Linked DNA regions of Homo sapiens. The protein of the gene in region 4 interacts with the protein of the main gene of each other region in a pairwise test. Each region holds a gene or a part of one and is shown on either strand. Other genes may lie near its edges.

The links.
Region 1: the proteins of TRIM54 (region 4) and SPG21 interact in binary tests that used the Homo sapiens proteins (3 or more experiments, as listed by UniProt).
Region 2: the proteins of TRIM54 (region 4) and CCDC87 interact in binary tests that used the Homo sapiens proteins (3 or more experiments, as listed by UniProt).
Region 3: the proteins of TRIM54 (region 4) and KIF9 interact in binary tests that used the Homo sapiens proteins (3 or more experiments, as listed by UniProt).

The regions. Positions count from the first base shown.
Region 1 is NC_000015.10:64,986,915-64,995,053, forward strand, and holds the start of SPG21 (maspardin), read right to left. Parts: upstream 3,001-8,139; 5' UTR 2,751-3,000; intron 2,557-2,750; exon of another isoform or gene 2,492-2,556; intron 1-2,491. UniProt on the Homo sapiens protein: May play a role as a negative regulatory factor in CD4-dependent T-cell activation.
Region 2 is NC_000011.10:66,589,956-66,597,983, reverse strand, and holds CCDC87 (coiled-coil domain-containing protein 87), read left to right. Parts: upstream 1-4,920; 5' UTR 4,921-4,968; coding exon 4,969-7,518; 3' UTR 7,519-7,808; downstream 7,809-8,028. Other genes in the region: CCS (copper chaperone for superoxide dismutase), read right to left, coding at 4,270-4,342, 4,684-4,722. UniProt on the Homo sapiens protein: Plays a role in spermatogenesis, where it is important for normal sperm head morphology. Also required for the acrosome reaction and thus normal male fertility.
Region 3 is NC_000003.12:47,244,469-47,251,891, reverse strand, and holds part of KIF9 (kinesin-like protein KIF9), read left to right. Parts: intron 1-1,265; exon of another isoform or gene 1,266-1,375; intron 1,376-3,805; coding exon 3,806-3,874; intron 3,875-4,414; coding exon 4,415-4,519; intron 4,520-5,639; coding exon 5,640-5,695; intron 5,696-6,380; coding exon 6,381-6,471; intron 6,472-6,967; coding exon 6,968-7,101; intron 7,102-7,423. UniProt on the Homo sapiens protein: Essential for normal male fertility and for progressive motility of spermatozoa.
Region 4 is NC_000002.12:27,277,843-27,285,698, reverse strand, and holds the start of TRIM54 (tripartite motif-containing protein 54), read right to left. Parts: upstream 3,271-7,856; 5' UTR 2,968-3,270; coding exon 2,800-2,967; intron 1-2,799. Other genes in the region: DNAJC5G (dnaJ homolog subfamily C member 5G), read right to left, coding at 5,484-5,533, 7,367-7,511, 7,684-7,856. UniProt on the Homo sapiens protein: May bind and stabilize microtubules during myotubes formation.

The DNA.
Region 1 (8,139 bases), on a different chromosome or scaffold from region 4:
AATCTATTCTAAAGGAGGGAAAATAAAAACATGTTTAGCAAATAACATCTACTCAATAGATTTATAAAACACCTTAGCTAACTAAAGCCAGAAAGTGTGCTTCTAGAGTCACCAAATGGGATAAATCATTCATAGCTTTGAAATCAGTTGCAATGCACAAACCAAACCACCATACAAATACACACATACACAGGCACACATATTCACGCGGTCATCCTCTTCTTTCCCATAGCAGTAAATAGAAAGATGTTCCTTACCAACAGTCTTCAGAATAATTCACAACCACCTCAGGATGCCAACGTGTTAAAAGTAATCTTACAAGATGGAGAGATTCCACTCCGCTGTGACTAAATTTTTGTAGAGACAAGTAATTTTAACACTTGTGCTAGTTTGGCAGTACATGAAAGGTAAAATGGATACCAAATGTTGCATCTGACCAACTGACGTCTAAGTGAAAAAAAGATCACTGCTGCAAAGGGAAAACAGCTGTGAGTGGTATGAATAGGAAAGTTTGTTCTCCTAGCTCTCTTTCATCCACCAAAGGGGTATACTTTTCCAAATCATAAGAGGAATATTCTGTATATGGCAAAGGTTAACTGAGATTGTGACCAAACTGGTCAGTACTGAATAAGAAAGAATGTGGACCATGAGCTCAAAACTGATTTTATCTCTCATGATTTTGTTCTTCACAAAAACAAAAGCACCTGTTCATGCTGGTGGGAAAAGAGCCACAATATTAGCCTTAATCTTGCCTAAGGAAAGCCCTCTTCAGGGTGTGCTGTGGACTCCCTGTCTTCTCTGGCCCTTGTGCTGCTGGACAATAAAAACTGCCAGTTGTGGCTGGGTGCAGTGGCTCACGCCTATAATCCCAGCACTTTGGGAGGCTGAGGCAGGTGGATCACCTGAGGTCAGGAGTTCGAGACCAGCCTGGCCAACATGGTGCAGCCCCGTCTCTACTAAAAATACAAAATTAGCTAGGCGTGGTGGCACATGCCTGTAATCCCAGCTACGCAGGAAGCTGAGGCAGAAGAATCACTTGAACCCGGGAGGCAGAGGTTGCGGTGAGCCGAGATCACGCCATTGCACTCCAGCCTGGGCAACGAGAGCGAAACTCCATCTCAAAAAAACAAACAAAACAGCAACAACAACAAAAACAAATTAGCTGGGCGCGGTGATGGGCTCCTGTAATCCCAGCTACTTAGGAGGCTGAGGCAGGAGAATTGCTTGAACCTGGGTGGCGGAGGTTGCAGTGAGCTGAGATCACACCACTGCACTCCAGCCTGGGCGACAGAGTGAGACTCTGTCTCAAAAAACAAACAAACAAACAAACAAAAAAACCTGCCAGTTGTGACTATGCCCCTATCCCTCATGGCTTCAACAGAACCTGCCACTTTAAAGTCAACAAAATCACCTTTATCAATGTTTAAGTCACATAACCAGCATAATTAGTCAGAGGTTTCTGCTACTTTATTTCAATCTATAGTTGATGTGCATTGTGGAAAATCTGTGCTTATAAATACTAGCCATAACAAAATATTAGAAGCTGAGAGTCTCTGGGAGATGCAACTGGCTTTTTAATGCACGTCTCCATCCCTCACCACAGAAGTACACAGCTATCCTTTTCTTAGATCTCTTCAGGGGAGATCTATCCCTCTTTTCTTCATTGCATTATCTCTAAACCTTACAGGAGGAAAAGGTGCCTACCTGACATCTGTGACATCTCTTCTCATGCTCTTGGGAAAAAAGCTTTTGGAATTTGGACACAGCTATTAAGTTACTCCTCAGTGGCCAGCCGCGATGGCTCACGCCTGTAATCTCAGCCCTTTGGGAGGCCGAGGCGGGCGGATCACGAGGTCAGGAGATCGAGGCCATCCTGGCTAACACGGTGAAACCCCGTCTCTACTAAAAATACAAAAAATTAGCCGGGCGTGGTGGCGGGAGCCTGTAGTGCCAGCTACTCGGGAGGCTGAGGCAGGAGAATGGCGTAAACCCAGCAGACAGAGCTTGCAGTGAGCTGGGATGGCGCCACTGCACTCCAGCCTGGGCGACGGAGCGAGACTCCGTCTCAAAAAAAAAAAAAAAAAAAAAGTTACTCCTTAATTTGTTGAATCTTTGTGCCAAAAGGAGCTGAACCAGTGTAGGTGGAGACAAAGGAAGCAGCATAAATGTCTAACTTATAACTCCCCAGGAAAACGAGAAGAGGAAAAATGAGACACTCCGGTCCCGCTCTGTTCCTCATCCCCCGTTTACAAACCTTACACCTGGCCCACACTCAGTAACAACAAAGACATCTATCACTTTCAGGCCGAGGTCCTGTCTCCAAAATTACTGGCCTCTGCTCACAGTTCTTAAAAGTTTGCTGAGAAAAAAAAAAAGAAAGAAAGAAAGAAAGAAATGTTCCTGGGCTGCAGTCGTGTAGCCCCAGGATGGGTTTACAGGAGGATGCCCCGGTTAAGCCCTGTGCCGCCCCCACCTCCCGCTGGAGACTCACACACAGCTCCCCGCCAGTCCCACCGGTGACAGCCACACAAAGGCAGGGTCACAAGCACACCGACCACCCCACAGCCCAGATTCGGCCCCAGACACACACTCACAAGGGCACGTGATCACGTGCGTGGTCACATGGACCGGCCCACTCAGAACACACTCACAAAGTCACACCAACCAAGGCAGCCACGCGCCACACACACACACCTACAACCCCGCATACCGCACACCCAGCCGCTTCCCAGGGCTTCGCCCACCCTCACCTGCCGTGGCCGCCCCCACGTCCCTTCCCCTCCTTCAGGAGGCCGCTCTTCGCTCCAGTACGAGCGCGGGCCGTGGAGGCGGCTGGGCCCGGGTCGGGGCGGGCGGCGGAGCACTCGGGACCCACGGGCACAGCAGGCTGCGCGGTGCGTGCGGGAGGCCGGCCTCTGAGGGGGCGGGGCGCGTGGCCGAGCGAGCTTGGGCCGCCGCGCTCCCCCCGCCCGACCGCCGCTCAGCTGGCGCGAGACTCCCGCTTCCGGGTTCTCAGAGGGCGGGGCCACGTCGCGAGGAAGGGGCGGTGCTGCGTGGCCCCGGCGGTCGCCACGGCGACGGGCGCGGGGGGAGGCTCCGTGGGATGCTTGGCTGCGGCTGGCGTGAGGAGAGGGCTGAGTTACGTCTGGGTCAGCCTTAGTTCTGCCCTACGTACCTAGGAGGAGGAGGAGGTGGAGGAGGCGCCTGGCCCCTTGGGACCTGCTTCTTCTTTCAGTTCGCGTTTTCTCTGTCGTGTACAGCTTTGGAGGGACACCTTTGGGTTCCAGACTTTGATGAACACAACTTTGTATACTCTTTTCTTAGGAACATTTTTTTTCCTTTGGCACAACCGTAGACGCTCTCCGTAGTCCTCCACTCAAAGCCTCCGCTTCCTTTTTGACGTTCTGGGGATTTCTGGGAACATACGCCCACCCATCTTCCTGTTCCTTCATCACTTTTCCCTTAAAATCAGAGAGAATATTAATACATTTGTAATCATTGTTCTTAAGGTGTTGCAGACGTCACGTCTTAAGGTGTTCCAGACTTCACGACTCCTTTTTTATTAGTAAAATATTTCTGAAATTATGATAAGGTGAATAACATGTAAATCTCCTTGTTTTGAATTTTTTTTTTAGGGATCCTGCAACAAGGTCCTGTTGAAAGTGCCTCTCTCTAATATGTTTTAGGGAAAGCTTGTACCCTGTTTTAGGGCCTGTAGACTTTGCCTTTACCTAGGCAACTGTTTATGGGATTAAGGTCAGGGAAGATTCCAACTAAATTGCATCCTACTTAGTTATCACTTCTGTCCCCTGGCCCAGGAGCCTTGGGTTCCACTCTAGAACTTGGACAAATCCCAAAAGCATTTTCCAAAAGCACGGTGACATACTTACCTTTTTCTTTCTTTCTTTTTTTCTCTAAATCATTTCTTTCGGGGTTGCAACTCAGTCGCAGGAATTCATCTTTTATTGTAAGCACCACATAGATGTATAGAGCACGTTTCCGTGGAGTATTTTAAGTTGGGGGCCTTTTCTCCAACATTTGGAATCGTTTAATGGGTGGAATAACTTGCAAACTACTGGTTGTCTCTGAAACTGGTTATGGATATTCATTACATTAGTTGTCTATTTTCCCAGGTGGTCTCGAAGCTTCAATCTAGAGCAAAGGGAATAGAGTGATTCCACCAGTCCATTAGCACATGATTAGCCCATAAATAATAGGTACTAAATGTATATTGATTGTAATCCCAGCACTTTGGGAGGCCAAGGTGGACGGATCGCTTGATTGAGCCCAGGAGTTCGAGACTAGCCTGGGCAACCTGGGAGACCCTGTCTGTACAAAAAAATACAAAAATTAGCCGGGCGTGGTGGCGCATGCCTGTAATCCCCGCTACTCAGGAGGCTGAGATGGGAGAATCTGTTAAGCCCAGATGTCGAATCCACTGCACCACATCCTAGGTGACAAAGCGAGAGACCTTGTCTGCTCCCAACAAAAAACTATATTGAATGAATTAATGAGTGGAATAAATAAATCTATCCCCATTTCCACATTTGTTCCTAAAGCTGTATTCCTTAGACCCCATCCCTAGACCCCATTTAGTAACAGCTTTAATGAGACCTAATCTATGGATATACCCGTATGTTAAAAGTCATTGTTCTGTTAGTGTGGTAGTAAACTTTGACAATTGACAATAAAAAAAAATCACTATGTAGATATGTTTTGTTACATATCAACTTTTATTACAATGTAGACCAATCCAAAAATAATAAATGTTTTACTTCTTTCAGGAAGGGAAACCATGGTCATGTTTGTGTCCTCAGTTGTTCCATAACACATGGCAAGCACATTGTCCCTTTCCTAATCCCAACAAAGAACATTTAATATCTGTGAATTCCAGCTGAATTGTAATGCACAAATTCAGGCAGCAAACTTTTGATTCAGGCAGGTCCCAGTGCAGGCTGACCTGGTAGACATGGCTGTAAGGATTTGCAGCTGTTGTGGCTGGGGTCTGCCAGATGGTTCCCACAGCACCAATTCATCTGTGAGAATCTCACAGAAAAACTGGAATGTTCACAAAATATGCTGTGAACACCAAGCAAAGTAAACAGATGGCCAGCTGGCTCTCAGAATTACCCAAACCCGGGCTCTGTCCCTCTTAATTTATCTTTTCACAGGATAATATTTGTTTGAAAACACACAAAATAATCCCAGATCCAGAAATATCCCTATGCATGTGTATACATAAGTGAATGCACTTTTTTTTTTTTTTGAGACGGAGTCTTGCTCTGTTGCCAGGCTGGATTGCAGTGGCACATCTCAGCTCATTGCAACCTCCGCCTCCCGGATTCAAGCTATTCTCCTGCCTCAGCCTCCCGAGTAGCTGGGTCTACAGGTGCCTGCCACCACACCCAGCTAATTTTTGTATTTTTAGTAGAGACGGGGTTTCACCATGTTGGCCAGGATGGTCTCGATCTCTTGACTTCGTGATCCTCCCGCCTCGGCCTCCCAAAGTGCTGGGATTACAGGCGTGAGCCACTGCGCCCAGCTGTGAATGCACTTTTTAAAATGTTTGGAGAGGTATGTACCAAGCAGCTAAGTGATTACCTCGGAGGAGGAACTGGGGATGGAGGGAGTGGTGAAGAACTTTGACTTTGGATTTAATAGTTGAGTTTATATTAAAATGTATTCATATATTATCTGTGTGATCAAAATAATTAAAAGCAGCCAGGCATAGTGGCTCATACCTGTAATCCCAGCACTGAGGGAAGCCAAGGCGGGTGGATCACTTGAGGTCAGGAGTTCGAGACCAGCCTGGCCAACATGGCAAAACCCCCATCTCTACTAAAAATACAAAAATTAGCCGGGTGTGGTGGTGCACACCTGTAATCCCAGCTACTGGGGAGGCTGAGGCAGGATAATCACTTGAACCCACCTGGGAGGCGGCAGTTGCAGTAAGCTCAGATCATGCCACTGCACTCCAGACTGGGTGACAGAGTGAGACTCTGTCTCAAATAATAATAATATTAATAATAATTAAAAGCAACTATATTTCTGTAATTCCTCTGCTATAAATCCTTCAATAGCTCCCCACTGCCTTCAAGCTAAAGTTCAAGGTATGCAGAGTAGAGCAGGTCTGGCTCTTGACTCAGATCTCTGTGGGGCCAAAGTGCTCTAGTCATACCAACTGCTTGAAGGGCCCCAAACACCTCCTGATGTCTCAGGAAGCCTCTAGGCTTTTGTATATGCCTTCCTTCCATTTAGAATGCCTCCCTCCAGTGCACCCATTAGAGTGAAAACATTTATTTTACCCCCAGGAACCACGGATGTGTAAAAAAGTGAAAGAGAAACAAAACACTTGCTTTTTCAGACTAATACTAATTCTTGGAATACCATCCCCTTAAAGCTTTACAGGGTACAGTCGATTGCAGTGTTATATACCAAATTATGCTGAGACCCAAGATTGAAAATGAATGCTCTTTCCTCATTGCCAGACCAAGTCTATGTAAAATGTATACTGCACTGGATTGGAGGAATCAGACACAAAGTGGGTATTCAGGAACTGGCTTAGAAAAATGCTGATGTGGCTATTTTAGAGGTTACTACCTAAAGGCATTATCAAACAGAAGTTATATATAGTTATTTTTAATTAATAATGTATTAGTTGTCATCTAGGAGTTCAGAAACCTGAGTTTTATCTTTGAGCAAAACATATCCTCTGCTAGGTCTGGTTTCCTTCTCTGTAAAATGAGGCCAAGGCTAAACTAAATTATCTGTAAGTTCTTTCCAATTCTAAGATTTTAGATTTTATAAATTTATAAGAGATTTGTCAAAGAATCTTTACAGCTGGGCGCGGTGGCTCACGCCTGTAATCCCAGCACTTTGGGAGGTTGAGGCAGGTGGATCACCTGAAGTTGGGAGTTCAAGACCAGCCTGACCAACATTGAGAAACGCTGTCTCTACTAAAAATACAAAATTAGCCAGGGTGGTGGCATGTGCCTGTAATCCCAGCTACTCAGGGGGCTGAGGCAGGAGAATCGCTTGAACCCGGGAGGCAGACATTGCAGTGAGCCGAGATCGCACCATTGCACTCCAGCCTGGGCAAAAAGAGCAAAACTCCATCTCAAAAAAAAAAATAAGGATCTTTACATCTTTACAGCAGTCTTTCCTCAAAGCTGCCCTTCTCTGATAATATTCCTCCTCCTTCTTGCTTCCAATCAAACTTTAAAAAAAAAAAAAAAACAGGCCAGGCACGATGGCTCATGCCTGTAATCCCAGCACTTTGGGAGGCCGAGGTGGGTGGATCACGAGGTCAGGAGATTGAGACCATCCTGGCTAACACGGTGACACCCTGTCTCTCCTAAAAATACCAAAAATTAGCCGGGTGTAGTGGCGGGCGCTTGTGGTCCCAGCTACTCGGGAGGCTAAGGCAGGAGAATCGTGTGAACCCGGGAGGCGGAGATTGCAGTGAGCCGAGATAGTGCCACTGCACTCCAGCCTGGGCGAAAGAGCAAGACTCCGTCTCAAAACAAACAAACAAACAAACAAAAAAAAACAGCCTACACACAAAAATGCTTATTTAACGGAAGCAGTATTTTAATCTCTCAGAAAAGTTAACGTTTGTCCATTAACTTTTTAGAATAAAAGTTTCTAAGCAAAGGTACCACATATTTTGTATCATCTGTCAACCTAGCATCTCAATGTTTCAACAATGTAAACAATGTAAATAATTAATGTAAATAACAATGGATAATCTACCTTCTGGTAGAAGAGCAGCAATAAAAATTAGTGGAAAGCAAGAGCTGCACTTCTTTACTACAAAAGATAGCTTCTATCTGTGGTGTCTTAGAAAACTTTATAAATCTTAGAGGTAAAAAAAGACAGTGATTACCTGGACATGGTGGTGCATACTTGTAGTCCCAGCTATTTGGGAAGTTGAGGCAGGAGGATACTTGAGCCCAGGAATTTGAGGCTATGTGTGTGATCATTGTGCCTATGAATAGCTACTGCACTCCAGCCTGGGCAACATAGTGAGATCTTGTCTCTAAAAAAATAAAAATAAAAAAAAATAAGACTGATGAAATAGTAACTAAAATAAAATATTTTTGAAATTGTCTAGCATAGTACCTGCATATAATGGGCATT
Region 2 (8,028 bases), on a different chromosome or scaffold from region 4:
CCACTGCGCCTGGCCTAAATGGGTGATTTTTATAGTACATGAATTATATCTTTTTTTATTTTCAAGATGGAGTCTCGCTTTGTCACCTAGGCTGGAGAGCAGTGGCATAATCTTGGCTCACTGCAACCTCTGCCTCCTGGGTTCAAGCAAGCCTCCCAAAGTGCTGGAATTACAGGCGTGAGCCACTGTGCCTAGCTGCCCAGCCTATGAATTATATCTTTTTTTTTTTTTTGAGACAGAGTCTCACTCTGTCGCCCAGGCTGGAGTGCAGTGGCGCCATCTGGGCTCACTGCAAGCTTCACCTCCTGGGTTCACGCCATTCTCCTGCCTCAGCCTCCCGAGTAGCAGGGACTACAGGCGCCCGCCACCAAGCCCGGCTAATTTTTTGTATTTTTAGTAAAGACGGGGTTTCACCGTGTTAGCCAGGATGGTCTCAATCTCCTGACCTCGTGATCTGCCCGCCTTGGCCTCCCAAAGTGCTGGGAATACAGGCATGAGCCACCACACCTGGCCTTTTTTTCTTTTTGAAATGGAGTCTCGCTCTGTCACCCAGGCTGGAGTGCAGTGGCACAATCTCGGCTCACTGCAAGCTCCACCTCCTGGGTTCTAGCCATTCTCCTGCCTCAGCCTCCCGAGTAGCTGGGACAACAGGTGCCCGCCATCACGCCCAGCTGATTTTTTGTGTTTTTAGTAGAGACAGGGTTTCACCGTGTTAGCCAGAATGGTCTCGATCTCCTCACCTCATGATCTGCCTGCCTCAGCCTCCCAAAGTGCTGGAATTACAGGTGTGAGCCACTGCGCCCAGCCGAATTATATCTTAATAAAGCTATTACACACATAAAAGGCAGGGACTATTGCCATCATTAGTAGAGCTAACACTTACTGGGCATGGACGGTGAGCGAATCCTGTGTTTTACCTGTCTTAACATATTTGGTACTCCTACTAAGCCTCTAAGTTAGGTACAATGATCCCCATTTTACAGATGAGAAAACTGAGGCACAGAAAGATGAAGAAACTTGCTCAAAGTCGCACTGTAGTAAGTTGTGCAACTGGACCTCTGACCATGCAGCCTAGCTCCAGAGCCCCAGCACTTAACCCAGATATTGTACTCACCCTAGGAAGCAGCCCTTAGGCTCCAAGCTGGGTTAGGACCACACCCCTTGTGGTCCTGTAGCAGCTCACACTCCCCCTCCTGTAATTCACATTGCACTGACTACAATCCTGTTTCACTCCTAGGCCGCCAGCTCTGTGAGGGCAGGAGCTCTGTGAGGTCCACAAGGGTCAAGTTCAAAAGTCAGTTGTCGGCCGGGCGCGGTGGCTCATGCCTGTAATCCCAGCACTTTGGGAGGCCAAGGTGGGTGGATCACAAGGTCAGGAGATCGAGACCATCCTGGCTAACACGGTGAAACCCCATCTCTACTAAAAATACTAAAAAGTTAGCCGGGCATGGTGGCGGGCGCCTGTAGTCCCAGCTACTCAGGAGGCTGAAGCAGGAGAATGGCATGAACCCGGGAGGCGGAGCTTGCAGTGAGCCGAGATTGCGCCACTGCACTCCAGCCTGGGCAACAGAGCGAGATTCCGTCTCAAAAAAAAAAAAAAAAAGTCAGTTGTCAGATGGCCAGGCGTGGTGGCGCACACCCATAATCCCAGCACTTTGGGAGGTTGAGGCAGGTGGATCACATGAGGCCAGGAGTTCGATACTAGCCTTGCCAACATGGCAAAACTCCATCTTTAGTAAAAGTATGAAAATTAGCCAGGCATGGTGGTGCACACCTGTAATCCCAGCTACTCAGGAGGCTGAGGTGGGAGAATCAAATGAACCGGGAGGTGGAGGTTGCAGTGAGCTGAGATGGTGCCACCGCACTCCAGCCTGGGCAACAGAGCAGAACAAGACCCTGGCTTTTATGTGCAAAAGCTATTAGAGGGGGCAACAGAAGCAATGGGGAACCCATCAAAGGATGAGGTTCTTACACAGGCTAGGGAGAGGTGGGGTGGCCTGGAGCAGTGTGGAGGCCTAAGTATGTTTTGGACACATAGCAGATAAGATGTCCTGATGACAGGCCTCAGCATAGGAGGGTTCCCAGACCCTCAGGTCTCCAGAGAAGAGCTGATTCTCTGCTCCTGAAGTGGGAAGTTCCTTGTCACTATGTACCTCCTGAATTATTGACTGAGTCTAAACCAAGAGGGAGGCTGGTACCTTAGCCAAGCAGCCATTCAGTTTGCTCCTTGAGTTAAGACTGGTAGACCCTGGAATGTAGCCAGGCCCACCCTTGGTTGGCTCAGAGCCCAGTGAGAGAGAAAACAGAAGGCCACAGAGAACACCAGGGCAAGTGATAGAGATTCAAGGGGGTGAGCCTTGGGCTGGGGGATCCTCCTGCTTACCTCCTGAGAAGGCCTTCCCCCAGGCCTCCTGAGATGGCAACTCTCTTTCTCTGTGTGTGTGTATTCTAGAAAACTACAGCTTCCCTCCCTGGCCCCATGAGAAAGCCAAGCCGGACCAGAAAACACAGAGTCACCAGAAGTCTTTATCTGTTGCCTAAGAAACATGCTGAGGGCTGAAAACTGCTCCGGGTCCAAGAGAAAGGCCAGCTGTCTGCTCTCCTCGCAAGCAAGTAGTACAGGAAGTGGAGGGCCCATTCACCACCCAAAACGCGTAGTCTAAGCAAACCCAGCTTCAACATTGTCCCCTCCAGCCTCCTTCCATCCAGATCACCACCTGTAAGCCCTTCTTCTCATAATCCCCTAGGATTTACTGGGCTGTTATTACATGCCAAAGACTTTTCTAAATGCTTTTTTTGTATTAACTCGGTTACTCTTCAGGACAATCCTCCAGATTAGCTTCTATTATCATCCCCCATTTAACACAGAAGAAACAGAGACACAAAAAGTAACATGCATGAAGTCTTAGTGCCATTAAGTGGCAAAGAGGGGGTTTGAACTCTAGAGCTCATACCCCTAATCACTTTACAGAGTCCACCACTACCAGGGTCCCAGCTTCAGAAGCCATCTTATCTCATTCCCTCTCACCATTGCTCTTTCCACGAAGCATTCTGCGAATGCCATCCAGGCAACGCTTGCATGCTCATTTCCACCTGAGTGCAGGGGATGTGCCTGATACCCATGTGAACTCTTCTCCCTAAAAAGCCCCAGTGTCTGGTCCATACCTGCCGAATGACTGGGTGAACTTGTTTTTTTTTTTTTTTTTTTTGAGAGAGGGTCTCACTCTGTCACCCAGCCTGGAGTGCAGTGGAGCGATCCAACTCACTGCAGCCTCCACCTCCTGGACTCAAGCAATCCTCCTGCTTTGGCCTCCCCAGTAGCTGGGACTACAGGAGTGCACCATGACGCCCAGCTAATTTTTGTATATTTTATAGAGGAGGGTTTTCGCCATGTTGCTCAGGCTGCTCTCAAACTCATGGACTTGAGCAATCTACCTACTTTGGTGTCCCAAAGTGCTGGGATTACAGGCGTGAGCCACTGAGCCTGGCCTGGATAAACACTTAACAGAATCAAAGGAAGCCAGTTCCCAGAGCCATGCTGGTGGCTCTACCTTTCCAGATCTTTCTCATTGTGCCAGGTCACCTCCAGACCAGCTGGCCTTTTATTTATTATTATTATTTTTTTGAGACGGAGTCTCACTCTGTTGCCCAGGCTAGAGTGCAGTGGCGCGATCTCGGCTAACTGCAAGCTCCGCCTCCCGGGTTCACGCCATTCTCCTGCCTCTGCCTCCCAAGTAGCTGGGACTACAGGCGCCCACCACCACGCCCGGCTAATTTTTTGTATTTTTTAGTAGAGACAGGATTTAACTGTGTTAGCCAGGATGGTCTCGATCTCCTGACCTGGTGATCCACCCACCTCGGCCTCCCAAAGTGCTGGGATTACAGGCATGAGCCACCACACCCAGTGGTATAGAAAGCTACCCAGGATGGTATAGGGCCTGAGCTGCTGTTTGCTTTGTCAAGATTATGTTGTTTCCCAAGCAAAAACTGCCTGTTTTCCCAGGAACTCCCTCAGCCTAGCTCCTCAGTCTCTGGGGCACCTGAGGTTCAGGACAACAAGACAGGCAGTTAGAATCTGTCAGGGCAAGCTGGACAGCTGTACTCTAGGCTCTGCCTCCAGGTCTGTGTGTAACTCTGAGAACATGCCTTTCACTCTCTGGGGTTCACTTTCTGCATCTGTAAAATGGGAGTAGGGTTCGCCTAATAGATTCGCCTGGTCCCTCCCAGAGGCTTCTGGACTGTCTGCAGAAAAGTTTACCCTGTTCTTACCTGCCACCCCTTGCAGGGATTTGCGCACCGCGTCCACACAGCTCTGACAGGTCATCTGCACCGCGAACTCCAACTGCAAGGGCGGCAGGGACCAACCGATGATCGCTGGGGAAGTGCCTTGGTATGACTTTGTTTCACCACCTACCCTATGACCACCGCAAGGGTCTGGGAACAAGCCCCACTTAACCCCTCTTCAAGCACCTTCTTCATGATCTCTCATGACCATTCCAGGACCATGGGAGTCACCCCCCAACACTCACGCAGGGCCCCTGCTACCCTCGCACCCTAGTTTCATCCCATGGCCCCAGGCCCCAACCCAAGTGCCCACTCCTTCTCCTCTTCCCAAGGTAACGATCATCCCAGGGGCCGAGGCTCTCTGCCCGGCGAGGCTCCACACGAAGCCTCGACCCTCACCGTGCAGAGGGTCCCCTGGTTCCCCGAATCCGAAGCCATTCTGGACCCAGTCACCACCCCGAGACGCAGAACTCCTCCGGCGCAGGAGCACCAACCAGCGCGGCGTCGCGGGGACTGAGCCTCTAAAGCCACCCTTAACTCCTCCTCCTAGTGCGTGCGCACGCAAGGCCCTGCTTCGTCAGCCACCGGGTGGCGGCCGCGCAGGCGCACTCGGGCCGTCGGGCTCCTGGTTGCCTTAGTAACCCCTCGGCTTTCTGTTCCTGGACGGTGGCGGCCGCCGGCTCTATGATGGAGCCCCCGAAGCCCGAGCCTGAGCTCCAGCGGTTTTACCACCGGCTGCTGCGTCCGCTGTCGCTCTTCCCCACTAGGACGACGTCCCCAGAGCCTCAGAAGCGCCCCCCGCAGGAGGGCCGGATTCTGCAGTCCTTCCCTCTGGCGAAGCTGACGGTGGCGTCGCTGTGCAGCCAGGTGGCCAAGCTGCTGGCCGGCAGCGGGATAGCAGCGGGAGTGCCTCCTGAGGCCCGACTACGTCTCATCAAGGTCATCCTGGACGAGCTGAAGTGCAGCTGGCGGGAGCCGCCCGCCGAACTTAGTCTGAGCCACAAAAACAACCAGAAGCTGCGGAAGCGGCTCGAGGCCTACGTGCTGCTGAGCAGCGAGCAGCTCTTCTTGCGCTACCTGCACCTGCTGGTGACCATGTCGACTCCCAGGGGGGTCTTCACTGAATCAGCCACCCTCACCCGGTTGGCCGCCAGCCTCGCCAGGGACTGCACACTCTTCCTTACTAGTCCCAACGTCTACCGTGGCCTGCTTGCCGACTTCCAGGCCCTGCTGAGGGCAGAGCAGGCCTCTGGGGATGTGGACAAGCTGCACCCTGTCTGCCCCGCTGGGACGTTCAAGCTGTGCCCTATCCCCTGGCCTCACAGCACTGGCTTCGCCCAAGTGCAGTGCTCTAACCTCAACCTGAACTACCTCATCCAACTCAGCCGTCCACCAGAGTTTCTCAATGAGCCAGGAAGGATGGATCCAGTGAAGGAATTGAAGTCCATCCCTCGGTTGAAGAGGAAAAAGCCTTTCCACTGGCTGCCCTCCATAGGAAAGAAGAGAGAAATCGACATCAGTTCCTCACAGATGGTGTCGCTGCCCAGCTATCCTGTGGCCCCCACCAGCAGGGCTTCCCCCTCGCCTTTCTGCCCTGAGCTCCGGAGAGGCCAATCCATGCCCTCCCTGCGTGAGGGCTGGAGGCTGGCAGATGAGTTGGGCCTTCCTCCACTCCCATCTCGCCCCTTAACCCCGCTGGTCTTGGCTACAGAGAGCAAACCAGAGCTGACTGGGCTCATCGTGGCTGAGGATCTGAAGCAGTTGATAAAGAAGATGAAGTTGGAGGGGACTCGCTACCCACCACTGGACTCAGGCCTGCCTCCTCTCCTGGGGGTTGTGACCCGTCACCCAGCTGCAGGGCATCGCCTGGAGGAGCTGGAGAAGATGTTGAGGAACCTCCAGGAGGAAGAAGCCTCTGGGCAGTGGGACCCCCAGCCCCCCAAATCCTTTCCACTTCACCCACAGCCAGTGACCATTACTTTGAAGCTTAGAAATGAGGTCGTGGTCCAGGCGGCTGCCGTACGGGTCTCTGATAGAAACTTCTTAGACTCTTTCCACATTGAGGGGGCCGGAGCCCTGTATAACCATCTGGCTGGTGAACTGGATCCCAAAGCCATTGAAAAAATGGATATTGATAACTTTGTTGGCAGTACTACCAGGGAGGTCTACAAGGAGTTGATGAGCCATGTCTCTTCTGACCACTTACATTTTGATCAAGGGCCCCTAGTTGAGCCTGCAGCAGATAAAGACTGGTCGACCTTCCTGTCCTCAGCCTTTCTACGTCAAGAAAAACAGCCTCAAATCATCAACCCTGAGCTGGTTGGACTTTACTCCCAGAGAGCAAACACTTTACAGTCCAATACTAAGAAGATGCCCTCCCTCCCATCACTCCAAGCTACCAAAAGCTGGGAGAAGTGGTCAAACAAGGCCTCCTTGATGAACTCATGGAAAACCACCTTGTCTGTGGATGACTACTTCAAGTACCTCACCAACCATGAAACAGATTTCCTTCATGTCATCTTTCAAATGCATGAAGAAGAGGTTCCTGTGGAGATTGTGGCCCCTGCCAGAGAGTCCCTAGAGATTCAGCACCCTCCCCCATTGCTAGAAGATGAAGAACCAGACTTTGTGCCAGGAGAGTGGGATTGGAACACTGTGCTAGAGCACAGGCTAGGAGCTGGGAAGACACCCCACCTGGGAGAACCCCACAAAATTCTGAGCCTGCAGAAGCATCTGGAACAACTGTGGTCTGTGCTTGAGGTCCCTGACAAGGACCAGGTGGACATGACCATTAAATATAGCTCCAAAGCCCGCCTGAGGCAGCTGCCTTCATTGGTGAATGCCTGGGAGCGGGCCCTGAAGCCCATTCAGCTGCGGGAGGCATTGCTGGCGAGACTAGAGTGGTTTGAGGGACAAGCTTCCAATCCCAACCGCTTCTTCAAAAAGACCAACTTGAGCTCCAGTCACTTCCTGGAGGAGAATCAGGTCCGAAGCCATCTCCACAGGAAGCTCAACTTAATGGAGTCTTCTTTGGTTTCCCTCCTGGAGGAGATAGAGTTAATCTTTGGCGAGCCAGTGATCTTCAAGGGGCGGCCCTACCTGGACAAGATGAAGAGTGACAAAGTGGAGATGCTCTATTGGCTGCAACAGCAGCGGCGGGTTCGCCACCTGGTCTCGGCCCTGAAGGATCCCCACCAGTCAACCCTGTTCAGGAGCTCAGCAGCCAGCCTTTAGTAGCTCCTGGGAATACCCCTATTACTCCTTGACCAGGCCCAGTGCCCTCAAATGCCTCCCTCACCCCTAAATGGCCAGCAGCTCATCTAGACCTCTTTACTGCTTTGGAAGAAGAAATATTTGTCTATATCTGGGAGTGGAGGGTTCAGGAACATTATGCTTCCAACTATGAAGGGATTGAGACTAAAACTATTGTTTTCTTAGTGAAATTCTCATGAAAGAATCCCCAAGCCTAGTAGTCCCATTATGTCAAGCCTTGCACAATACAAGCCAAATCTCCTATATCAAAAGAACTGAGACCTTGGAGTTAATTGTAGTGGGAAGGGTCAGAGGCAAAGGTGATCTTTGGAACAACTCACTTTAGCATTCCTATCACACTACATTAAATTGTCACCTCTTTTAGTTCTCAAACACTATTAGGAAGAAGAAAATTAATTAAATTTTTACCAGTTACGTGCACATGGTACAAAGTATACCAGGATGTGTACTGAAAAGTAAGCCTTCCCATAC
Region 3 (7,423 bases), on a different chromosome or scaffold from region 4:
GACCCTCCCACTCTGCCAGTCGGTGATTCTGTGAAGTGGTGTAAAGGGCTGTGAGCCTCAGGCATAAACAGACAGCAGGGAGAGACTTAGTATACTCCACTCTGCCAAGAGAAGATACACTGGCAAGCTGCAGTGGGATGAAAATCGGAAAACTGCCTGCCCCAAGAGCTGCCCCACAGCCTGATGTGCAGCTTAAGCAGAATTCTCTGAATTATCCTCATTACATTTATAATGAAAATGCCTATTAGGAAACTTACATGAGTCTGTGCTGTTTCCAAGGCATTTTTTTCCTATCTAAAAAATGTCCCTGTTTGTTGTTGTTGTTTTTGAGACAGGGTCTCACTCTGTTGCCCAGGCTGGAGTGCAGTGGTGCAATCTTGGCTCACTGTAACCTCTGCCTCCCGGGTTCAAGCCATTCTCCTGCCTCAGCCTGCTGAGTAGCTGGGATTACAAGCATGTGCCACCGCACCCAGCTATTTTTTATTTTTAGTAGAGATGGGGTTTCACCATGTTGGCCAGGCTGGTCTTGAACTCCTGACCTCAAGTGATCTGCCCGCCTTGACCTCCTAAAGTGCTGGGATTACAGGCATGTGCCACTGCACCCAGCCTCCTACATCACCTTCTGATTGGCCCAGACATGTAAGTTTGGCTCTGCTGTGCCTCACTGAACAGAGTCATCAAGCTGGAGGACCCTGATGGCTCAGTCGAACTTTCTGTAGCTGGGCCATGATACATTTTCTAGAGCTGGGAGAAGGATGGCATGTGGACAGGTGAGACTGGCCAGCAAGCCTCTCCTGTTGACCCCACAGGAAGTCCACACCTGAAGGGGACCTTTGTGGGGCTTCCAGAGGGGCAGATCCAGGATCTGGACACTGGTCACATGCCTTGGGTCCCAGGCTTTGTGCCTGAATTGCCACAGAGCCATCAGGATGCCAGGGGTTCTGTTGACCCTTGCTATGTGAGGGCAGTTGGGCCTCAGTGCCCAGGTGACCTGGTTGGATGAGGGCTAGAATACAGCAGGCCTTTGGTCTGGGAGAGGGCCAGTGGGGCAGTGGACTGGTCACAGTTTTGGTCACCAGTCCCAGGATCCAGGTGTCAGGGGCTCCCTCCAGTGGCCCTTTTATGACAACTAAAGGAAGTCCTATTGTTCACAGCGAGGGTTCTCAGCTTGAAGTTCCTTGTGCCTCTTTTAGGGAAGACACTCAGATGGTATATCGAGTATAAAATGACTTAGCGATTCTTCTCCTCAAAATGTGTCATTTATGATCCTTTTGTAGTTCATGAGTGTGATGATTGTGTGTTCATACGCTTGTGTGAGATGTGCCACCCTTGAACCTTGTTACGACATTGGCACATTACCCGTCTGATCTGAAAAAAAAAGTATCATTTATTTACTTACCTAAAATCTATGGAGTGCTTACTATGTGCCAAGTGCTTTTTAAAGCACTTGGAATACCTGACTGCATGAACAGAAACACAAATCTCTGAGCTTGCAGTCTGATGGGAATAGGGGAGATACATAATAATAATCACAATAAATAGGTAAGTTCTAAAGTTTCACTGTTTAATACGGTAACTGCTACTCAAATGTGGCTATTTAATTAAAATTAGAATTACTTCTTCAGGCACCCTAGCCACATTTCAAGTGTTCAGTAGCTGTATTTGTCTCATCATTACCATACCGGGCAGCACAAATATGGAACATTTCAATAATTGCAGAAAGTGCTATTGGACAGCACTAATCTAGAATATGTTAAAAGGCAAAATGTGCTATGAAAAAAAATTAGAGATTTTTAAAGCATGTTGCAGGGGTGGAGAAGGTATTACAATTTTTTTTTTTTTTGAGACAGTGACTCGCTCTATTGCTCAGGCTGGAGTGCAATGGTGCGGTCTCAGCTTACTGCAACCTCTGTCTCCCGGGTTCAAGCAATTCTCCTGCCTTAGCCTCTCTAGTAGTTGGGATTACAGGCGCATGCCACCATGCTTGGCCAATTTTTGTAATTTTTGTAGAGACAAGGTTTCACAAGGGTGGTCTCGAACTCCTGACCTCAGATGATCCACCTGCCTTGGCCTCCCTAAGTACTGGAATTGCAGGGATGAGCCACCGCACCTGGCTGGAATTACAATTTTAAAGAGTAATTGTGGTGCACCTAATTTAGAAGCTTTTGAACAAAGATTATCAGGAGGTAAGTGAATGAGTCTTGGAAATACTTAGGAGAAGAGAATTCCAGGGCAGCGGACAAGCAATGCAGAGGCAGAAGCATACCAATTTGTGGAAGTGTTTGGAGTGCACCAGAGAAGAGAAGCAGAAAAGAGGTAATGGGGGCAGATCTCAAAAGCCTCATAGATCACTGTGTTATTCTACAGAAATCTATGAGGACATAAATATATGAGTACAAAAATGTTCTTGCAGCATTGTTTGTAAGCAGCAAAAAATTAGAGGTGAGGCCAGGCACAGTGACTCACGCTTGTAATCCCTGCACTTTGGGAGGCTGAGGCGGGCAGATCACCTGAGGTCAAGAGTTCGAGACCAGCCTGGCCAACATGGTAAAACCCCATCTCTACTAAAAATACAAAAATTAGCCGGGCGTGGTGGCACATGCCTATAATCCCAGCTGCTCAGGAGGCTGAGGCAGGAGAATTACATGAACCCGGGAGGCAGAGGTTGCGGTGAGCCAAGATTGCGCCACTGTACTCCAGCCTGGGCGACAGAGCGAGACCCCATCTCAAAAAAAAAAAAAAATTAGAGGTGACATACATGATTATTATTGGGGAGTGGTGACATGTTCATGCAGTGGTTGGTGAGGATGAGGGTGAAAGGATGAGGTTATAACCATGCATAGAAAGCATCCTGGAGGCCAGGCACAGTGGCTCACATCTGTAATCCCAGCCCTTTGGGAGGCCGAGGCGAGAGGATTGCCTGAGCCCAGGAGTGTGATACCAGCATGGGCAACATAGTAGGACCCCTGTCTCTACAAAAATTAGCTGGGCATGGCAGTGTGTACCTGTAGCATGACCTACTCAGGAGGCTGAGGTGAGAGGATTGCTTGAGCCCAGGAGGTTGAGGCTTCAGTGAGCCATGATGGTGACACTGCACTCCAGCCTGGAGGACAGAGCAAGAGCCTTTCTCTAAAAAGAAAGCATTCTGGTGCTGGGTATGGTGGCTCATGCCTGTAATCCTAGCACTGTGAGAGGCTGAGGTGGGTGCATCACCTGAGGTCCGGAGTTCGAGACCAGCCTGGCCAACATGGTGAAAACCTGTCTCTACTAAAATTATAAAAATTAGCCAGGTGTGGTGGCGGTCACCTGTAATCCCAGCTACTCAGGAGGCTGAGCCAAGAGAATCACTTGAACCCGGGAGGCGGAGGTTGCAGTGAGCTGAGACCATGCCATTGCACTCCAGCCCGGGCGACAAGAGCAAAACTCTGTCTCAAAAAAAAAAGAAAGCATTCTGGAGTCTGTAGGCTGCACCAAAAGGGCCATTATCCTGGTAGACTGGAAGGAGCCTGGGGCCCCTGGGAGTTGGGGTTTGAGGTGGCTGTGTGGCTTGTGCTGTCTCTTCTACTGGCAGTAGCAAAGGCCAGGGGACTGTTCAGGTCCTCCCAGACCCTAAACTCACCCCAGTTAGGGAAGAGTCACCAGTCGGGAGGGAATCACCAGAAGCTGAAAGCATACCCTGTGGATCCAGGAATGGCCAGGATGTCTGGGCACAGAATGAGGAATTGTACTTTTGCTGTGGAAGAGACAGGGTAGCTTCTCTGATGATCCTTCCTGTCGGCCCCCACCCTACCATGTTTCCCGGCAGAGAATGGTCAAGAACCTGGAGAAGGAACTAGCACTACTCAAGCAGGAGCTGGCTATCCATGACAGCCTGGTAAGAGGCTAGAGGCAAAGAAGGAGGGCAGAGGTGCTGGGGTAGGGGGTGACTAGAGGGACTGGGGCTAGGGGCAGACAGCATCATGGGTCAAGGCCAATGGTGGGCGGGGTTGGGGGGCAGGCTCAGTGGCAGGAAAGGGGCAGCAGCAAGGGTCCATGAGGACAGGGGTTGGGAGCAGAGTCCTCCAACGGTCCTGAGGGGCCTCGAGGCAGAGGCAGCGCATGCCTCCCGTCCTCGCCTTTCTCATGCTGCAGAGTCTGCTGGGACTCAGCCAGCAGAGCCTCTGTCTGGAGTAGCAGGACCCATGTCTGAGGGTCTTTCCTTTCCTCCCCGACCCCATTATCCCTCTCTGACCCAAGCACCTGGCCTGTTGTGTCAGGCCCTCTGGCAGGACCCGATGATGAAGGGAAGGAGCCAGCTTGGGCAGCCAGGGCCTGTGCCCAGCCTCCCCACTTTGCCTCTCAGAATGGCCCCTGCCACTCCCCTGTGGGCTCAGGTTCTTGTTGCTTATCCACATGTTCTTCATCCTCCTTCAAGACCAACCGCACCTTTGTGACCTATGACCCCATGGATGAAATCCAGATTGCTGAGATCAACTCCCAGGTGCGGAGGTACCTGGAGGGGACACTGGACGAGATCGACGTAAGGAACCCCTCTGTGACCACTATGCTCAGCCAGCCTGGGCCTCCCAGTCCTGGGCACACCCCAACGCATGCTCTGCTGGCCTCAGAGCCTCATGTGAATGGGTGCAGTGGGTGGAGGGTGGTGCTGGACTCTTGATGTCAGGGTCCCTTCAGCTCATCTCAGGGGCACAAGCACAGGCCCTAGAGCCAGGCTTTCTAGGATTGAATCCCAGCTCAGCTGCCTCTTTGCTGAGTGACCTTGGCAAAATACTCAACCTCGTGTACTTCAGTGGCCTCACCTGCCTAGTGGGGAGGGAAACAGAGTGGGGATTAACTGAGCTGCTGCACCTGGGGTGCTTGACTGTGTCCGCAGAATGAAGCTGATGAAGGATGGTGGTCATGCTGGTTGTCTACAAGGTAGACCCCAGGGCCCATGTTGGAGTGGGCCAAGGAGGGGGAAACCACCCCACAAGGAAGGGTCCTCAGGGGGAAGGCTGCATCCTGTTTTCACAGTGCAGTCCATCAAACCCCTCTTCTTGGAGACATGGGCAGACCCCCCTGGCTGTTACTGTGGGCAGCTCCGAGAAGCAGGCCTGGGACAACTAAGGGATGGACTCTTCTGGCCTTCACAGGAGGGGCAGTCCCAAATTAACCCTTGATCAAGGGGAATGCTGTGGGCTTTAGGCTGGGGGGAGGCCAGTAACCTTCCTCCAGCCTCGTGTGTGTGTCTGTGCCCATGCAGACAGGACCATAAATGGGCTCCATCTGAAGACAGCAGGCAGAACCTTTTGGAAGTAAGAGAAAGCTGAGAAGTACATTTTATTAAAAAAAAAAAAAAAACCTTTAGAAGGTATTTTCAAGGTATAGAATCATTTCATTTTATAGAGGTCTCCACTTCGAAAAGGTGGTTTTTATAGCCTCAGCAAATACTTAGTTTTAAAATTATTAATCAGGTGTTTCTCTGCTCTGGAGGAGGGCTTGGCTGCCACTTCGCTGAGAGGCTGTGTGCACACGTCCTCTTCTCGAGACAGATGGTCCAGGGGTCAGCCAAGGGGTCTTGATTTCTCTACTAACATAGATGCCCCCTGGTCCCTCGAGGTGCCCTTGGTCTAACCTCTGCCTTGCTGTCTTCCCTCCAGATAATCAGCCTTAGACAGATCAAGGAGGTGTTCAACCAGTTCCGGGTGGTTCTGAGGTGAGAGACCCCCACCCCTACCTCATTCCTACATCAGGCTGCCATTTTCATCTCCTGCCATCTGGGCACTTGCCTCCAAGAGCTCCTCTTCTTGCTTGTGGATGAAGAGCCAAATCAGAGTCCTTGGGGGCATGCCTGGGTCCCTGGTGGATATTCAGTGAGTTCATTAATTGGACAGGAGGTGTTTATGGAGTGCCAGCTCTGAGAGTGCCCAGAGCAGGGCATTGTGAATATTCACCTTGTGAATATTGCAACACACACTCCCACCTCAGGAGGCATTTGTGGTTTATTTGGGTGCAAACATACCCATAGTCTGAGCAGCTTATGCTAGGTGGTGTCACTAAAGCTGGTCATGTGATTCCAAGTGGCCTCTTAGAGACAGAACCTAAGACAGAACCCCACATGGTCCCAAGTGAAGCTTACGGTCCTTATCAAGTGTCATCTTGGAGCAGACACACATGACATAAGGTAGCCCTTGTGGGTATGGGGGTCGGACAGTGGGTATATGCAATGGGGCAGGGGGAAGTGAGTCCTTTGTCCTTTTGTCTGGTCTGGTTCATGATGAAGGTGTGGCCCCACACAAGGGGCCTCACCCATATGACTTTTAACCCCAGTACTTGGTTCTTGCCCCAGTGGATTCAGCATGGCCCCAGGTACAAGCTGTTCTCTCTTGCTGTCTCCCAAGCCAACAGGAACAGGAAGTGGAGTCCACTTTGCGCAGGAAGTACACCCTCATTGACAGGAATGACTTTGCAGCCATTTCTGCTATCCAGAAGGTAAGCATAGTTGCTACTTGCCGACAGCACTCACCTCAGATTTCCCATCCTCAGACCTTTGCAGAGCCAGCAAGTATTAATGCATTAAACCAGAGCTAGGATTGCAACAGATAAAGGTAACACCAGAATGAACACAGGTGACCTGTGTTAAGAGTAAACCACTTTTGAATTAAAAATAATTTCCATAAGGTAGAGACATGGATAATAATATTAAAGACGATTTCCTGGAATTAGGTTGGAAATAAGCTTTAAGATCCCCAGAGTATGGAATGAGGTGCCATACTGGTGAGGGGGTGCATGTGGAAAGTGGACATTTGGCAGAGTGGTCAGGGACCGCTCTACAGGGGACAGCCTGAGGCTGGCATCAGCAGCTGTCAAACCTTGGTGTGTATGGTGAACATGTCCACCCTGAGCCTTGGGCCATATACATGTGGGTCCCCAAGGGGTCCAAGCCCTTAATCTAACTCACAGACCTTTGGCTGGCCTCTCTATGTAGGCGGGGCTTGTGGATGTTGATGGCCACCTAGTGGGTGAGCCTGAAGGACAAAACTTTGGACTCGGAGTCGCCCCTTTCTCTACCAAACCTGGGAAGAAAGCCAAGTCCAAGAAGACATTCAAAGAGCCACTCAGGTGAGTGACCTTGCCGCTCTGCCTCCTCAGCAGCTGGCCCTCCTCGGTGGGTGCATGGGAGGATGTGCACTGTTCCCACTTTCCCCCTGGTGTCTCAGCTACTGGGTTGGCACAATGGACGTCACTGCTGCCAATACTAGCAAGTCTGTGGGGCCCGGGCTGGGGCTGGTTTGGAACCGCACAAGAATCATCTCTCGTCCTCACAGCAACCTGGTGAGGTGGGAGTTAATGTCTTCATTACACTGATGAAGAAACAGAGGCTTAGAGAGGGGAAGTCACTCACCAAGGCCATACCACCAATGAGTAGTGGAATGGCAGCAAG
Region 4 (7,856 bases):
AACAATCACCCACAGCGAGTAAGTGAACAAAGGCAGGTGGGGGGCGATGGGTCTCGCCTGAGAACACATATACATGCAAATGTGCCGATTTGTGGAAATTTTCTGGAAGTATTCCCAAGAAAGTTGGTAATAGTTACTTCTATCTGGTGAGACAACTGAGGGTCTGAGGTGAATAGCAGATTTGCTTTTCATGATATGAACTCCTATACTGCTTGAAAACAGTATGTTTACATGTTACAAATTCTAAGTGATATACTGGTATCACTTTGATAACCGTTAACTTTCTAGGCAATGCTCTAAGGGTATTCTTCCTAAGTGGTTTGAAGGTAGAGGAAAAGTCCTATTCTTTCCAAAAGTCCTATTCTTGCCCCATACTTAGAAAACAGACAATCTGATTATGCCTACAGTTGTCAAAATGTGGAGGCAATGTGCGAAAAAACTAAATATGCTCATCTTTCAGAGGGAGATCTACTGAGATATATTGAGATACACAGATCTAAGTGCAGCTGAAGAACTGGGTCAGCCTCCCACCAGGCCCTCCCAAATAAGCAGCAAGGGATGAGCTGTTCACTCTTCCTCCTTGGAGGGCCCAAGGGTGCTTTGCACCTCAAAAGATACACCACTCCAGATCCACAGAGCCACCCCAAAGCCCTGGGTATCATGTTATCTCCAAATATTCTGTACAGGATTTGCCCCAAGCCATTCCAAGGTCTCTCTGAGCCCAGATCCGTATTCTAGAGCTTTCTGGAACTGAAACAGTGTGCTTGGATAGAGAGAGTTGACTTAAATAAGCAGGTCACTTAAACACATTCTAGCCTCCATGTATGGGGCCTATTCCTCTGCCAGATGACAGAGGGACCCAGGAATGCACTTGGCCCTTCTGACCACTTTTCTACAGGACACATCACCTTAGCTTTCAAAACTTCTCTTTGCTTTCACACATTTCAAGTTCCAGTGTGAGGATGTTTCACTGTAAGTTCATGAGAAAGGATGGCAAAATCTTTCTGCCATTTCCCTCCTAGGCATCTCAGCCTGAAGGATGTTCAGAGTTACTTAGACCAAGGAAAAACCAAGATGGTGGGCAAAGCATTGCCTCTCATGTAGGACTTCATGCCCAGGACGAGGAGGCACAGCATTTGGTCTAGGCCCCCCGAGAGGGAAAATCTACTGGCTCTGAGATACTCTGGAGCTGAATAATGGCAGGTTTGGACACATAAAGAATAGGAGAGGGAATGGGTCTCAATGGGAAGATGGCAGGAGAGACCACAGAGTGCTGGTCTTCAGTGAAGGTGGCACAGAGCAGACACACAAGGTGTGGGTCACAGGGTACATTGTGGGATGGCCTGACCTAGCCAGCCCATTCCTTTCCAAAACAAGCTGCCCCAAGGAACTTAAAAAGGGAAGTATTTTCTTGGTTAGGTTAAAAATCACTTGTGTTTAACACATTTCCTCATCATTTCTGACACAGATGAAGAATACTTGTTTGGGATGTTCCATGTCACTGACACACATACTAAACCAGCCAGCTCTGGTCTATTCGGGGTTTGTTTTTGTTTTTGTTTTTTTGAGATGGAGTCTTGCTCTGTCGCCCAGGTCAGAGTGCAGTGGCATGATCTCGGCTCAAGGCAACCTCCACCTCCTGGGTTCAAGTGATTCTCCTGCCTCAGCCTCCTGAGTAGCTGGGACTACAGGCGCCTGCAACCACGCCCGGCTAATTTTTGTATTTTTGGTAGAGATGGGGTTTTACCATATTGGCCAAGCTGGTCTTGAACTCCTGACCTCGTGATCTGCTGGCCTCAGCTTCCCAAAGTGTTGGGATTACAGGCGTGAGCCACTGCACCTGGCCATATTCAGGGCTTTTACTTAACGGCAAGGCCGTGTGTGTGTGTGTGTGTGTGTGTGTGTGTGTGTGTGCGCGCGTGTGTGTGTGTGTGCCTTTGCCCCTCACTCTCCCTGATCTCTGTTCCATTTTATAGCCTACTAGAACCTCCCCAGTAGCACAGGAAAAAAAAAAAAAGCCCACTTATAATCCATTCTGGTATATGCTGCTTTTATTTCTAAACCAGTGGCTATACTAGTATCTGTGAATTTGATTAGCTCTGCTTGGCCCCATGACCACAGATAAAACAAAACTGGCTGGACTTCTGAGAAGTAAATTTCTTTGCCTTCTCCCTGCTTGTCAAGTGACCTCAGTAGCTTTTAACCAGTAGGCCTCTTTACTGAACAATCTGGAGGGTAACAGGTATGAACTCAAGTTGGGGAGAGTTCCCAGTCTCCTGCCCACTATGTCTAACTCTGTCACCCACAATGGATGCCTTCAACTTTCCTTAAATACAAATAGTTTTACTGCCATTATGGAGCTTTCTCACAGGGTCGGGTTTTGTTTGTTTGTTTTTTAACGTTTCATTATCTCATTAATCTTTTCTCCGTATTTTCCACAATGCTCTCGAAGTCTGAAACTCCAAACTGGAATGCAGAGTCTGGCACAGGCTCTTATAAAGCCCGGTGTGGGATACCCTCCCTCCCAGTTTCCACAGGGTCTACTTTCCTTGGTAGATCCCAGCACTCCAGCTGCCGTCTATGCACAGGCTGTACCTGCCAGCCTGCAGGGCAGCTGCTGACTCATGCTTGCTCTGGGATTTGCTTGGACCCCAGCCCTTCTGCTCTCCAGCCACAACAGCCACCACCCACCTCAGAGAGCACTCTATCCATCACCTTCTGGGGTCTCAGCTCTGACCTGATCAGTCCCCCACAGGTCTGCATTGCTTTACCTGGCCCTGCCCCGTCCCTGGCACCCACCTGGAAGACGTCGTTGGCACATTTGCGGCACAGGTTGTGTTGGCAGGGCAGGATCACCACTGGTTTGGAGAACATCTCCAGGCAGATGGGGCAGATGAGCTGCTTCTCCAGGTTGTCCATGCTGTGTGCATCCCCTAGCAGCGGCTTGAAACCCACTGTGAAGTTCATCCCCTCGGTGGTCGTGCCTGGCCTGGGCCCTGCTCCTGGCCTTCACTCACTGCCTGTAGACCCTTCCTCGCTTAGATGGCCTCTGGATTCCCTTCTGTGGCTCACTCTTGAAATAGCTCTGCTTTCTCTCCTGTCCCTTTAACAACTTGTCTCGTCCCAGATAGCAGTCTTCGGACAGTCTCTACTTTCTGCTCTGCACCCTCGCCAGGCTCACGTAGTTTTAGCTATCCCTCTCTCTCTGTAAAATTCTCCTTTTGTTTCCCAAATGACTCTCTCTTGTTCACTCTGTGGGTAGCACTGTTTGTCCCTTACTCCCCAGAGAGCAGATTAATTTTACTGTGGGGGTTGGGAGACAAGGGGCATCTGCATGACATTCCAATTCCCAATTTAGCTCATGTAAGGCGAGCCACAGCTGTCATGGAGTGAGTGACCCTGACTCACTCAGGAATGGGTGACTCCCTTGAGCAAGGGCAGGGGTGAGTGCCACTGCTTACAGTGAAAGGTGGGTCAGCAAAGGTGCTGCCCTCTCACTCTGAAGGCTCCTCTCAGCCCGGGACCCCTGTTCTGGCTTGGGCCCTTCTTCCAGGACAGTGACACAGAATCTAAATCTGCCTGTGTGAGAGGCACCCATACATAGCTCAGGGTGGGAGGAAAGATCTTGCCAGACTTAGAGTCAGTAGCGGTTGCCTCCTCCACAGGCTCAGCCAGTGACCCTGGTCCTCCTCCTCAAGACTGTGTGATTCAGAACAGCAGCTCCAGGGACTACATCAAGCCTCTTGTCCAACACCTCTGGCTCATTTTTGTTCTTCCCTGGCCTTTTCTTATATCACCCTAGGAAAAGAAGCTCAAGAGGCTAGAAATGACTGTTGTGCCAAGGCCTGGACCTACCTATGAGCATGCCCCCGAGGAAATGTGGGATTCTGGTCCGTGAACACATCCCTGGAGCCACTCCAAGGACTCAAATTTGTTAGGAAATTGGGAGAAGGTGAGCTGGGCAGAAAGGACCTGAATGCCAGGGACCTATTTTGGGCACCCAGGGAATCAATCTCCAGGGAAATTTTAGAGCACTGACAAAGTCATAATCACAAGGCTCCGGGAAGCCTCTGACCCAGCTCCACAGTTGTCCAGGACTCCTACTCTCCAAGCCAGGCTTGCCCCACTTGTGAGCACTGGTCTTCTTTTTCTCCTACAAGTCTTCTCCACTTGATCTTAGGCAAAAGGCCAAGAAGCAATTTCTTTAGGCCTTTTTTCTCTACCCCAGACACAATTTGTCTTTTTTGGGCATAATATATGCCTTGGGATTGGATGAAAGCTCTTTTATTTACTGACATTCTTTAGCCTTTCTCCTAGTCCAGGGAGAGAAGTTTGAGGAATTAGTAGGCTGTGACCCTGAGTGGGTGGGAAATACACGGTGTGAGGAGGATACGAAACAGCAGCACAAAGAGGCAAGAGTGGGAAAAGAGTCCAGAAAGTACAATCTTTTCCAGATCACATATTTCATGCCCCTATTTTTAAGAACAAATTATATGTCAATTGGCCTGCATAATATGTGAAAAGGATGGAGGCAAGCTGGCACTGATGTTTGAACTTCAGTTAACCTACAGGACCAAGGCTAATGCATGCTGTGCTGGTAGCTGAAGTCCAAGGATAATCTAAAGATGGAATGACTACCCCTAAGCCTCAAATGCACTCGCAGTTTTCCTGAGTTGACTCATAGTGGCATGGAATGAGGCTGGCAATGCCAATGGCCGTGGGCACCAGAAGATGAAACCAACTCCATACAGGCGTTATTGGCTTAGGAATGAGGCTGATGCTAGGGGTTCTTGGTACACAGAGTTGCAACAAGGGAGAATTAATGGGTGCAGCAGCTCCAGGGACAGGATCCACCCTGCTCAGTTATCAGGCTCTTGGTGGTGATATCGCAAGGGGCTCAGGGATCCTACCAGCTGGCATTGGTTCCAATAACAAGGCAGACACAGGAAAAAGACTCTTCAGGAAAAATCTGCCACCACTGCCTGAGACCTCATAAGGGGAGGGAGGGGAGGGCTGCTTTCTGACGGAGTAAAATTGGGACTGCAACTGAAAGGAAGAGTAGCTGGGCAACCCCATACAGAGTTGTGGTACCAAGGGTAGAGGTGATGTCCTTACTGGGATCAACGTCATCAGTGCTTCTGAAGAGATTCTTGAGATCCTTATAAGAAGAGGGGTCAAATCAGGGTCAATGTCAGGACAGGGCTACTTGCTCCTCTCTTCAATGTGTCCAGGGGACTGGGCAGCAGAAGGCACCCTCACTGGGTCAGCACCTAGTGGCGGAAGAAGGTGGCGCTTTATTAATCAGAAGGAATAATTACCTAGAACTTAAAGCAAACCCCTACATGTAAGGATATAAACACATAGTCCATACTATAAGGATGTAAACTTTCTACTAATGACTCATCTGACGTTAGCTTACATGCTTTTCTTATCTGATAACTGTTGCTGCCTTTCGGTTTACATACCTCATCCTTCTTCATCTCTTAAAAATCATCTTCGCTATTTTCCTCGCTTCTAAAATCACATTTGGCTCCTATGATGGAATTATATATATGTTTACATATACAAACGTTTAGTAACTTTTCGTAGTGTACTGATGAGAAAACCGTTACCTTGCAGTTACTCATTAGCATCACCAGGTGGCGCTGGTGTCAAGTTCAATCAGCTTATAAAAGTTCATTTGGGGGGGAATGATCTCAGACTTTCCTTTTCTTTTCTTCCTCTTCCTCTTCCCCTCCCCCTCCTCCTCCTTTCCTTCTTCTTCTTCTTCTTTTTTGATACAGGGTCTCACTCTGTCACCCAGGCTGGAGTGCAGTGGCATGATCACAGCTCACTGTAACCTCAACCTCCCAGACTCAAATAATCCTCCCACCTCAGCCTCCCCTGTAGCTGAGACTACAGGTGTGCACTGCCATGACCGGCTGACTTCTGTATTTTTTTTTTTTTTTTTGTAGATACTGGGTTTCATGATGTTGCTGAGGCTGGTCTCAAACTCCTGAGCTCAAGTGATCTGCCCACCTTGGCTCCCCAAAGTGCTGGGATTACAGGCACAAGCCACTGCAACTGGCCCTTTCCTTTGAGTAGATGGAAAAAATTGCATCCCGCCAGGCACAGTGGCTCATGCCTATAAACCCAACACTTTGGGAGGCCAAGGCAGGTGGATCACTTGAGGTCAGGAGTTGGAGACCAGACTGGCCAACATGGCGAAACCCTGACTCTACTAAAAATAAAAAATTAGCCAGCTAATTTTTTAGTAATCCCAGCTACTCAGGAGGCTGAGGCAGTAGAATCGCTTGAACCCGGGAGGCAGAGGTTGCAATGAGCTGAGATCGCACCACTGCACTCCATCCAGCCTGGGTGACAGACTGAGACTACATCTCAACACCACCACCACCAACAACAACAAAACAACAACAACAAAAATTGCATCCTCAAATCTGTCTTAACCTAACTGTCCTCTCTAGACATACTCTCCCACCCCATTCCTTAGCTTAACAGGAGCTGACACTACTACCTTCAAACTGTCAGTTTGTCGTGTGATGCACAGAAACATATTGATCTTTTTTTTTTCTTCACTTTGTCCCAGTGCCAGACTTGAAGACTTGAAATTGTCATATTTAGGGATTAACCTGCCATTTTCACAGGTCTTTCTCACCCTCAACCATTTCTTTCTTTCTTTTTTTTTTTTTTTTTTGAGATGGAGTCTCACTCTGTTGCCCAAGCTGGAGTGCAGTGGCATGATCTTGGCTCACGGAAACTTCCGTCTCCCGGGTTCAAGCAATTCTCCTGCCTCAGCCTCCTAAGTAGCTGGGGTTACAGGCGCCCGCCACCACACCTGGCTAATTTTTGTATTTTTAGTAGAGACAGGGTTTCACCATGTTGGTCAGGCTGGTCTCAAACTCCTGACCTCGTGATCCGCCCGCCTCGGCCTCCCAAAGTGCTGGGATTACAGGTTTGAGCCACCATGCCCAGCCTCTTTCTTTTCTTTTCTTTTTTTTTTTTTTTTTTTTTTTTTGAGATGGAGTCTTGCTCTGTCTCCCAGGCTGGAGTGCAGTGGCGCGATCTCAGCTCACTGCAACCTCTGCCTTCCGGGTTCAAGCGATTCTTCTGCCTCCTCAGCCTCCCAAGTAGCTGGGACTACAGGTGGGTGCCACCATGCCCAGCTAATTTTTGTATTTTTAGTAGAGACAGGGTTTTACCATGTTGGCCAGGCTTGTCTCCAACTCCTGACCTCAAGTGATCCACCCGCCTCACCCTCCCAAAGTGCTGGGATTACAGGCATGAGCCATTGTGCCCAACCCCAATCATTTCTTTCATTCCCAATCCAGACATTTCTTACCTCACAGTCCCTGCTTGCAGTTCTCACCTGACCTTGGAGGCTGACTCTGGACATTCTGCTGATATTTTCTCCCACTATCCTGCTCAGGTGGTGGTTTAAGTGCTCCACAGCAAAAACAGCAGCAACAACAGAAACAGCAACAAGTGAGCAGAGTACACAGGATGACAAGTGTCTAAAAGGTAGGCGAGAATGGCCTCAGTCCAGCAGTTTTCTATATGACTGCTCAAGCTTCCCTCCCTCAATCCTCCTGGCACCCAGAAAATGAGACAACAGAAGCATTTGTCATAAGGAAAGGAAGGTCACCCTTCTTTCCTTATTCTTAAAGGACCTGGAGAATTGTGTACCTTGAACCAACAACTATTCAGAATAAAATAGTATCTGACGCCTTCTTCACCAAAGTGATCATACAGATATATTCCCAATGAGCCATGCTGGTCGTAAATTTTCCGCTTCTTAGAGTCGCTCAGTATGGCATGAGCTGCGTTGATCTCTTTGAATATTTCTGCTGCTTGAGCAT